2 separate regions of the Homo sapiens genome follow, and region 1 is linked to region 2. Evidence: fine-mapped expression QTL. A gene starts in region 2. The other region holds a variant in brackets. All regions are shown on one strand. Distances are from middle to middle.

Region 1 (5,240 bases), 640 kb after region 2:
TAATCTTGGTAGGTTGTATGCATCTGGGAATTTATTCATTTCTTCCAGATTTTCCAATTTTTTAACTTGTAGTTGTTCATGTTAGTCTCCAGTGATCCTTTGTATTTCTATAGTATCAGTTAATTTCCCTTTTCATTTCTGGTTTTATTTGTGTCTTCTCTTTTTTTAGTCTAGCTAAATGTTTTTCTTTTCAAAAACATTTTGTTTATCTTTTCAAAAAACCAACTTTTGGTATTTGTTTAGTCTCAATTTAATTTATTTCTGTTTGGATCTTTATTATTTCTTTCCTTCTATTAATTTTGGGTTTGGTTTGTTCTCACTTTTCTAGTTTGTTGAAGTTCATCATTAGGGTGTTTATTTGAAATCATCCTACTTTTTATTTCTTTTTTTATTGCTATAAACTTCCCTCTTAGTACTGCTCTTGCTATATCCCATAGATTTTGAGATGTTGTGTTTCCATTTTCATTTGTTTCAAAAATTTTTAAATTTTCTTCTTTATTTCTTCATTGGCCCATTTATCATTCAGGACCATGTTGTTTAATTTTCATGTATTTGTGTAGTTTCCAAATTTCTTTAGTTCTTGATTTCTAGTTTATTTCACTATAGTCAGAAAAGATACTTGATATGATTTCTACTTTTGTGAATGTTCAGACTTGTTTTGTGGTCTGATGTATGGTCTGTCCTGGAAAATGTGCCATATGTTGATGAGAAGATTGTCTATTCTACAGCAGTCAGATGAAATGTTGTGTAAATGTCAGTTAGGTCCATTTGGTCTAGAGTGTAGTTTAACTGATGTTTCTTTGTTGATTTTCTGTTTGGATGATCTGTCCATTATTGAGAATGGGGTGTTGAAGTCCTCTACTATTATTATATTGAAGTCTATCTCTCCCTTTAGATTTATTAATGTTTACTTTATATATTGAAGTGCTTTGGGATTGGGTACATTTATATTTACAATTGTTATATCCTCTTTGTAAATTGATGTATTTATAATTTCATAGTGACTTTGTGTCTTTTTATAGCCATTGACTTGAAGTCTGTTTCATCTGATGTAAGTGTAGCTATATCTAGTCTTTCTTGGTTTCTGTTGCAAAGAATATCTTTTCCATCCCTTTACTTTCAGTCTACATGTGTCTTTACAGGTGAAGTGAGTTTTTTGTAGGCAACATATGGTTGGGTCTTATTTTTTTTATTCGTTCAGCTGTTCTATGTCTTTTAATTGAAGATTTTAGTCTATTTGCATTGATTGTTATTATTGATAGGTAAGGACTTGCTATTGCCCTTTTGTTACTTGTTTTTTGGTTGTTTTGTATAATAACTCCTGTCTTCCTTTGTGGTTAGGTGATTTTTGTTCCTGGTTGTATGTTTTAATTCATTGCTTTTTATTTTTAGTGTATCTATTATAGGTTTATGCTTTTGTGGTTACCATGGGGCTTACAAAAAAATCTTATAAATAAAACAAGTTACTTTAAACAGAAGATAACTTAGCTTTGATCACAAAGAGAAGAAAAGAAACAAAGGAAAAACTAAAAAACTCTACATGTTAACTGTATCTCCCCACATTTTGGCTTTTTCTTGTTTCAATTTACATCTTTTCATATTGCCTCTTAAGTTGCCATAGTTGTAATTACTTTTGATAAATTTGTCTTTTAGTCTTTATACTAGAGATGTGAGGAAATTATACACCACAACTACAGTATTAGATTATTCTGAATTTGTCTGTGTATTTACTTTTCCCAGTGAATTTTATACCTTCAAATATTTTCTTCTTGCTCATTAGTGTCTTTTTCTTTCAGTTTGAAGAACTCGCTTTAGAATTCTTGTAAGATGAGTCTAGTGGTAATGAATTCCCTCAACTTTTGTTTATCTGAAAAATACTTTATTTCTCTTTCATGTATAAGGGAAAGCTTTGCTGGGCACAACATTTTCAGTTGACAGGTTTTTTTTCCTTCAGTGCCTTAAATATATCATACCACTCCTTTCTGACCTGTATGGTTTCTGCCGAAAAGTCTGTTGCCAGACACAACGGAGCTCCTCTCCTTTACGTTATTTGATTCTTTTACCTTGCTGCTTTTAGAATCCTCTCTTTGTCCGTGACCTTTGAGAGTTTGATTGTTATATGCCTTGGGGGTGGTCTTATTTGGATTAAATCAATTTGGTAATCTCTGACCTCCATATACCTGGATATTTATATCTTTCTCTAGGTTTGGAAAGTTTTTAAAATTATTTCTTTGAATAAGTTTTCTACCTGTTGCTCTTCTTCAACTCCCTCTTCCGTGCTAATTACTCTTAAATTTGCTCTTTTGAGGTTATTTTCTCTATTTTGTAGGCTTCCTTAGTTCTATTTAAATTTATTTT[TC/C]TTTTTCCTCTTCTTACACTGTATTTTCAAATAACCTGTCTTTGAGCTCACTGATTCTTTCTTCTGCTTGATCAATTCTGCTGTTGAGAGCCTTTAATGAATTTTTCAGGTCAGCAAGTGTATTTCTCAGTTCTAGGATTTCTGTTTTTATATATATATATTATTTCAATCTCTTTGTTAAATTTCTCTGATAAAATTCCTCAACTACTTTTCTGTGTTATCTTGAAGTTCACTGAGTTTCCTTAGAACTGTATTTTGAATTCTCCATCTGAGACCTCACACATTACTATCTTGTTAGGGTTGGTTACTGGCTCCTTGCTTTGTCCACTTGGGGAGGTCATAACTATGACCTGTTTGCTGTGTTGTTTCTTGTGGACTACACCTATGACTGCATTGAAGGATTAGTTATTTATTCCAGTCTTTGCTGTTTGGTTTGTTTTTGTCTTTGTGGGGTATAGAGTATGTTTGCTTAGATGTTCTCTGCAATTGCCTCCCAACGTCCCTTAATCTTTTATCTCTTCCTCCTTTTTGGCACTAGATGGTGCCTTACACTCAGAATTGCCTCAGCTCTTGCAAATATTCAGAGCGCAACCTATCCTAAATTGGGGGAAGGGTGTCCCAGAGGGGATATCCAGTTGTTTGGGAAGGATGATCCAAAAGGGGATGCCCCAGCTAGATGGGAAAGCTGGTTCATGCCCAGAAGACCCATGAAGCCTGTCTCCTACAATGTGGTGCTGCTGAACAGCCACTATGATTTGACTTTTCCTTTGGCTGAGATAAAGAGCAGAGTTTTTCAGGTGGGGTTGCTGGTTTTGCCTCCTGCCTTTGTTTCTGGCTGCCCCCAGTGGTTTTTCTCCCTACAGGCACTTGTGATGCTTCCCATGGGTTGTGGCAAGAATGGCTTTTCTGAAAGGGAAGCCAAGATGGCAGGAAAGCTGGCTGTTTATCTTGATCTCACTTTTTCCAGTGTAAAAACTGTGAGTACAGGAGGAATTTTCCATACACGATGCCTGGCAGATTGAGGGAGAGGTGTTGTGGATACAGAAGTCCATTTCTTTTACCATCTGCTCAGAATTTTTAATCTTTCTGTGGTCCCAGGGATTGTCTCAGTCTCATATTTGAGTTTTGGGACATTGCTGGTTGCAATCTTTGCACTGGATATATATATATATTTGGTTTTCTGTGGAGGAGAATGAAGCCAGATTGCTTCTACTCTGCCATTTTGGTGACATCACCCTGCTTTTCATATATTAAGCCGAATTTGCATTCTGGATAAATCCTACTTGCTTATGGTGTGTAATCTTATTCACATTCAGCTTATTAGTGTTTTGGTGAGGATTTTTGCATTTATATTTGTAAAGAATATTATTCTACAGTTTTATTTACATATTAGCTCTTTTTCTAGTTTTTGTATTAGAAAAATACTGGCCCCACAGAATGAATTGGATAGTGTTTCCCTTTCTATTTGAACAATGTAGTTGTCCTAGTTGAATAAAGGATTGGTGGCTTACAACAATTGGGGCCTTCCACCCTTTTGTTACCCCTACCTGCAGAATGGACACTTGCCTCTCTTCCTGTGATTCTGAGACCACTCAAGTGAGAACCCAGGGTTAAATCCCCAGTCAGACTGGATTCTTCCCTCCCCATGTCCTACATTTTTCCACTCCCAAGTCCAGAGTCGAAGAGCAATTTTCCCACATATCTTTCCAGTTTCCTCTTCTCTTTTCCCTTTGCCCTGTCCTGCTCCAAGCCTCCGCTCACCCCTCACCTGTATTATTTCAAACGTTCCTCACAGGCCTCTATGCTCCCCCACCTCTAGCTGCTCTGCAGAGACAGTTTTCTAAAACCCCAATAAGAGCAAGTGGTGGCCCTGCTCTGTGTCCTTCTCTGACACTCATTTCCTGAAATTCAAGGATTCCAAAAGGCATCCACTATGCACCCCTTATATCAAGGTAGGGCTTCTATATCCCCAGGGTGCCTAGAGGCAGGAGCTGAAGCAACCAGCCACTGGCACACTTCTTCTTGGAGCTTTCTAATTTAGTACTTCAAATCTATGCACATTTTCCTCTCTATGATTTATCCATGGTGTTTTAAATATTAAGTAATGGGCATTTCTCTGATCTTGGAGAAAGATGACACTCTGGGAAGATGCTCCGTGCCTGCTCCATGGCTCGCTGCTGTGTATTCCCCAAGGAGACAAGGAATTAAAGTGTCAGATGGGGACACCTTCTTGGATGTTAACTTTACTATAAGTTCAGGAAAAAATGCCCTTTATTACTTACTAAAACAGTCATGAAAAAGATTTCCCCAGGGATTGCACAGCACCCAGTCTTCTCTGAGCAGACCTCTGACTAACTTCCCCATATCACCATCCACCACTTCATCTCTTTGCTCCAAGCCTCATCCTCAGATCTCAAATACAGCTTATGCATACACAACATAAACAGTCATGCACACACCCACCCCACACACAGTACACTCTGGGGCTCAGAACATGACACTCCAAAGTATGGTGCTTTGGCATGCTAGGTACTTTGAATTAAAGGAGATCAGAAGGTCTTGAAAGCAGATTCTTTCTGACCTTCTCCTATCTGCCTGTCTCCTGCCCTTCTTTCTCCTGCAGAGTGAGTCTGAGTCATAGGAACCAGAATTCTTCTTCCCCAAGGTGGGTCATAAAACCTAGAACTCCTCTCCCACAAAGCAAGACATAAAACATAGGTCTTCTCTCTTGAAGACCTTCCTTCCAGAGGGGCCCTGCTCATACCCAGGGTATAGGGGAAGCCAACCTACACAGAGAAGCTGAGAGGAATCCCTCTCTCTCTCTCTCTCTCTTTTTGAGATGCAGTTTTGCTCTGTCTCCCAGGCTGGAGTGCAGTGGCAC
Region 2 (5,240 bases):
CAGGCATGAGCCACCATACACGGCCTAAAATTCACTAATTTACCAGCCTGGGCAACACAGGGTGAACTCATCTCAAAACAAAAACAAAAACAAAAAAATTAGCTAAGTGTGTTGGTGCATGGCTGAAGTTCCAACTTCTTAGGAGGCCAAGGTGAGAGGATCGCTTGGGCCCTGGAGTTCAAGCCTACAAGTGAGCCATGGTTACACCACTGCACTCTAACCTGGGAGACCCTGTCTCGAAAAACAAAAGTAAAATACAAATTCACCATTTAAATCATAAAGTGTCTACTTTGGTGGTTTATGGTATACTCACAGTTTTGCAACCGTCATCGCACTCTAATTTTAAAAGGTTTTCAACACTCCAAAAGGAGACCCCATACCCATTAGCAGTACCTTCCCATTTCTGCTCTTTCATCCCTCAACCCCAGGCTACTTTTATGTTTCTTGGCTGTATGTGATTTTGTTATGTTTGTTTATTTTGGATTTATTTTATTTTGGATTTATTTCTTTCCTTTTGACATGGAATCTCATTCTGTTTCCCAGGCAGTGCTTCATCTCAGCTCACTGCAACCTCCACCTCCTGGGTTCAAGCGATTCTCTTGCCTCGGCCTCCAGAGTAACTGGGATTACAGGCGCCCATAACCACGCTCGGCTAATTTTTGTAGTTTTAGTAGAGATGGGGTTTCACCATGTTGGCCAGGCTGGTCTCGAACTCCTGACCTCAAGTGATCTGCCTGCCTCGGCCTCCCAAAGTGTTCAGATTGCAGGCATGAGCCGCTGCGCCCAGCCCATTTCGGATTTTTAGAAATTGATTACAGATTTTATTTATTTATTTATTTGATACAGGGCCTCTTTCTGTCTCCTAGGCTGGAATGTAGTGGCCCAATCATAGCTCATTGCAGCTCAATTCCTGGGCTCAAGGGAATTCTCCTGCTTTAGCTCCCAAGTAGCTAGGACTACAGATGTGTGCCACCATGCCCAGATAATTTTTAACTTTTTGTAGAGACGAGGCCTCACTATGTTGCCCAGCCTGGTCTCAAACTGCTGGCCTCAACCAATTCTACCACCTCTGCCTCCCAAAGTGCTGGGATTACAGGTGTGAGCCACCCCACCAGGACCCTGATGGGAGAAATTTTGCATTTATCATGATGATCAACCATTTCCTTATCATGTGTATTGCAAATATATATATATGTATATATACGTATATATATGTTTATATATGTATATATGTGTATATATGTATATATGTATATATGTGTATATATGTATATATGTGTATATATATGTATATATGTATATATACATATATGTGTATATATATATATTTTTTTTCTTGAGACGGAGTCTTGCTCTGTCATCAGGCTGGAGTGCAGTGGCACAATATTGGCTCACTGCAACCTCTGCCTCCTGGGTTCAAGTGATTCTCCTGCCTCAGCCTCCCCAGTAGCTGGGACCACAGGCGCCCGCCACCACTCCCGGCTAATTTTTTTGTATTTTTAGTAGAGACGGGGTTTCACCATGTTGGCCAGGATGGTCTTGATCTCTTGACCTCATGATCCACCCGCCTCGGCCTCCCAAAGTGCTGGGATTACAGGCATGAGCCATCGCGCCTGGCCGTGTACTGCAAATATTTTTTATCCATTTGTTCTACTTTGTTGATGGCATCTCTTCTCGTACAGATGTTTATATTTCTTTCAATATTTTCTTTTATGATCTTTTGACTTTGATTCATGAGTATAAACATTTTCCCTCCTCCAATTATAGAGCTTCTCCCCATATCTTCTTCTGGTCTTTTACAGTATTGCGATTTGTCTGTTTTCAATCTATTTTTTTTTTTTTTTTGAGACGGAGCCTCTCCGTGTCGCCCAGGCTCAAGTGCAGTGGCGCGATCTCTGCTCACTGCAAGCTCCGCCTCCCAGGTTCAGGCCATTCTCCTGCCTCAGCCTCCCGAGTAGCTGGGACTACAGGTGCCCGCCACCACGCCCGGCTAATTTTTTTGTATTTTTAGTAGAGACAGGGTTTCACCATGTTAGCCAGGATGGTCTCGATCTCCTGACCTCATGATCCGCCCGCCTCAGCCTCCCAAAGTCCAGGGATTACAGGCGTGAGCCACCGCGCCCGGCCTTCAATCTATTTTGAGTTTAGTTTGAGACAGTAAGACTAAAAGCACTTAACATACATTATTCCACTTAATCCTCCAGGCCATTCTGTTAAGTGGGGGTTATTTTCTTCTTCATTGTACAAATGTGGAAATGGAGGCAGGTCGATTTAAATAAGGCCGCAGAGCTAGAAAGCTGCAGAGAAGGGGTTTGAACCCTGCACCTCTGGGGCCAGGGCAGTGCGGGTGGCCGTCCGCGAACCCTGCTAGCTGTGGTGCTCGGGGGCAAGCTTCCGAGGGCGCGGCGGGCGCGAGGAGCGCGTCCGAGACTCGGTGGAGCGTCACCGGCGCAACCCCGCGTGCCCAGCTCCAGGCCGTGTTCTCCCAGGTGCGGGCCGGCGGGACCCCGCCTTCGGCCCTGGCGGCGCGCGCTCGCCTAGCGGGCGGGCACTCGCGCGCAGCGTTTGTGTTGCCTGCGAGTTTCCCGAGTTCACACAGGCCCTGGGTTGGCATGGCAACCAGGCAACCTGTTCCAGAGCCGCCAGCCTTCTCCGCACATGCCGCTGCCACCGCCGGGGCCGGGGCCGGAGCCTATCCCAGGATGCACCGCGCCAACCCAGTCCCCAGTGGGCCGCCATGTTGTCGGAGTGAAAGGTAAGGGGGAGCGAGAGCGCCAGAGAGAGAAGATCGGGGGGCTGAAATCCATCTTCATCCTACCGCTCCGCCCGTGAGTATCCGCACCCCACCGGCCCCAAACGCTGCTCCGGACCCCTAACGAGCAGATTGTCCCTTCATATTGGTGTTTGAGAGTGGTTGTGGGGGTGAGAAGGGCTTTGGAAAAGCCGCCGGGGCCCTGGCTGAGGCTTCTCACTCGCTGTTCCTCGTACATGTTTTGGAGTCAGCAGCAAGGCCCCTATTGTTATCAAAGGAGGGAGGGGGTGGGGAGCGGGGTCGAAGCTAGGAAAATGCTGGGGGTTTAGGCCCGAGCCCAGGGCGTAGACGTGCCTCTACATTTTTGCCTGGCCCTGTTGGGAACCACCGAAGATTGATGTTGCCATTCGGGTTGCTTTTTTTGATGGGTTTGCGAAGCCCCGAGTCTTCTGTGTGGCCATGAAGTGTAATTCTGTGCCACCCCGATTTCTTCGACTTCTTGAGCTTCCGTGGCAGCGCCGGAGGAGGAGGAACAATAAATCGCTTTAGAAGCAGCCGTGGCCCTTGTCCACAGGCGAGATTCACCGTGGGGGAACTTTGCGAGCCTTAAATGTGGAGAAGTGGCGATCAGGAAGTTTCAGAATGCTTTTTAGGCTCCTGGGTTGCTGTGGCCTTTTGTTTCCGTGTGAGCTTGTGTTTTTGGTGGGTTCTTCCTTTTTGAGCCTCCCGGTGTTGGTGTCTCTCTTCACTCAAAGAGGGGTTCACCCCTTGCTAGTAGGAAAATCTAGATACACAATACTAGTTTTAGTCCTCACAAACATGCTTGGTAAACATAGATCATTTGTTTTACTTGTCAGTACCATTCCCACGTCAAGTGAGGAATACACTCCTGTAACTTTTCCCTCCTATAGCCCCCCCCCCCCCCCCCGCTGAAAAAACAAAGCCAGAAACCCACACACAGCATTACCAGAGAAGGCTTTATTCTCCCGTAACTTAGATTGTTACCTTTTATTGTTCAATTAAGAAAACACTGTTCTCAGCCCTCGATACCATTTTGCTCAATTCCTGTTATTACTGGGATTAATTAAGAATAAGATTTTATGAAGCTTTTCCTGGGTTCTGTTTTAAAGTCAGTTAACTTCTGAAACAATAGGCTTAGCATTTTGTTTCTTGAAAGCACCTAAAAACTTACTAAGACAGGCCCAACCCCAAGAAATGTGGCTTCCGATGCAGTTTTCGTAAGCAAAATAAACATTTTGACCCTTTGCTAATTTTAACTTTATAAAACACTGGGGGGCTGTTGATTCTTTATCTGGGCTCTTGGGAAACGCTCTCCGGATTCTGAACTTTGAGTTAGTGTTTTGCTTTAGCGACAATTGAATTCATTTTGTTCAAGGCCACAGCTTTTTGAAGTTGGAATTTGTTTAGTTTAGGTTTAAAATGAACTGTTTTAAGATAAATTTATGACCACAGAATGTTTGTTAAGTGTGGTAAAAATAAACACCTTTTAAACCACTAAGCATTTTAGTAAAAGGTGAGCCATGGAAATAAAGTAAACCGTGTTCCTTTGAATTCAACTCAATTAGTGATATTTTAAAAAACTTTGTAAACATTTGAAAGCTGTGAAAGAGTAGCTGGACTGAGCACTTCTAGTTGCTTAAAGTACTTATAAGGTGTCATTTGTAAAAAAATCACATTTTAAATGCTACACGTATTAGTGAGCTTTTCTGATATTTAGGATACTGAGTTTTTAATTTTTGTGCCGTATTTGCCAAAATACCACAAAACTACCCAAGATAACATGTTAATTGCTTAGGTATTTGCTCACTTTGAAACTGTTCTGCCAGGTTTTCTCTGGTTTGAGAAACTGCCTTGCCTCTTTAGGTAAAGCAGGAAGTCTTAGGGCATACAGATAGCTTTACAAAAGCCAATTGTTTCGTTTGAACATTTTTATAGGAGTCTTTTCTTTCCCCCATTCCTTTTAGAATGAAGGTGTGTTTAGTGTGCGTCAGTGATAAACTCCTCTTTTATGTGGATATTCTTTGTTAGATAACTTTTTTCTTTTAAAAATTTTTATTTGTATAATTTGTGAGGTACAAGTGTAATTTGTACATGCGTGTATTGCGTAGTGGTGAAGCCAGGGCTTTTTGTGTGTCCATCACTGGAATAACGTACATTGTCCTCCTTAGGTAATCTCTCATTATCCTTCTCTCAGCCTCCTAGATAACTATTTTGAGAAGGCTTTTATTTCAGAAAAGATTGCATTTGCTGTTTTAGGAATTCTGTTAGGGACTGGAGTTGCCTTAACTAGGGGTAACTAAATTCTAAGAGTCTTAAGCACGATGACTTTAAATTTACCAAAAACTTTTATATTTATCTCATTTTCATTAAGAAAAACCCAAAACATTGAGAGTCATAGAGGAAGGATTTCTTTCATTTTCTAGATGAGGAAACAGGTAGTTTTGTTTAGTGAAAGAACTTGGGTTTT

Direction of the effects. Positions count from the first base shown, and alleles are read on the strand shown. Sizes are in standard deviations (SD) of each study's normalised expression.
As copies of C replace TC in region 1, the expression in prostate of the gene that starts at base 2,727 in region 2 goes up (large effect, 0.86 SD a copy in GTEx).

Evidence for each region.
Region 1: its variant is fine-mapped to the expression of PUM1 in prostate (GTEx, PIP above 0.99).

What each region holds. Positions count from the first base shown.
Region 1 is chr1:30,425,490-30,430,729 of GRCh38, reverse strand. No RefSeq gene overlaps it. Among named protein-coding and RNA genes, the nearest start is that of MATN1-AS1, 290 kb to the left of the region's middle. The variant TC/C (reference allele first, on the strand shown) is at 2,359.
Region 2 is chr1:31,063,204-31,068,443 of GRCh38, reverse strand. It overlaps PUM1 (pumilio RNA binding family member 1), which reads left to right and starts at 2,727. Exons shown (of 22, transcript NM_001020658.2): 1 at 2,727-2,828. RefSeq lists a silencer at 2,421-2,640 and enhancers at 1,969-2,883, 2,751-3,070.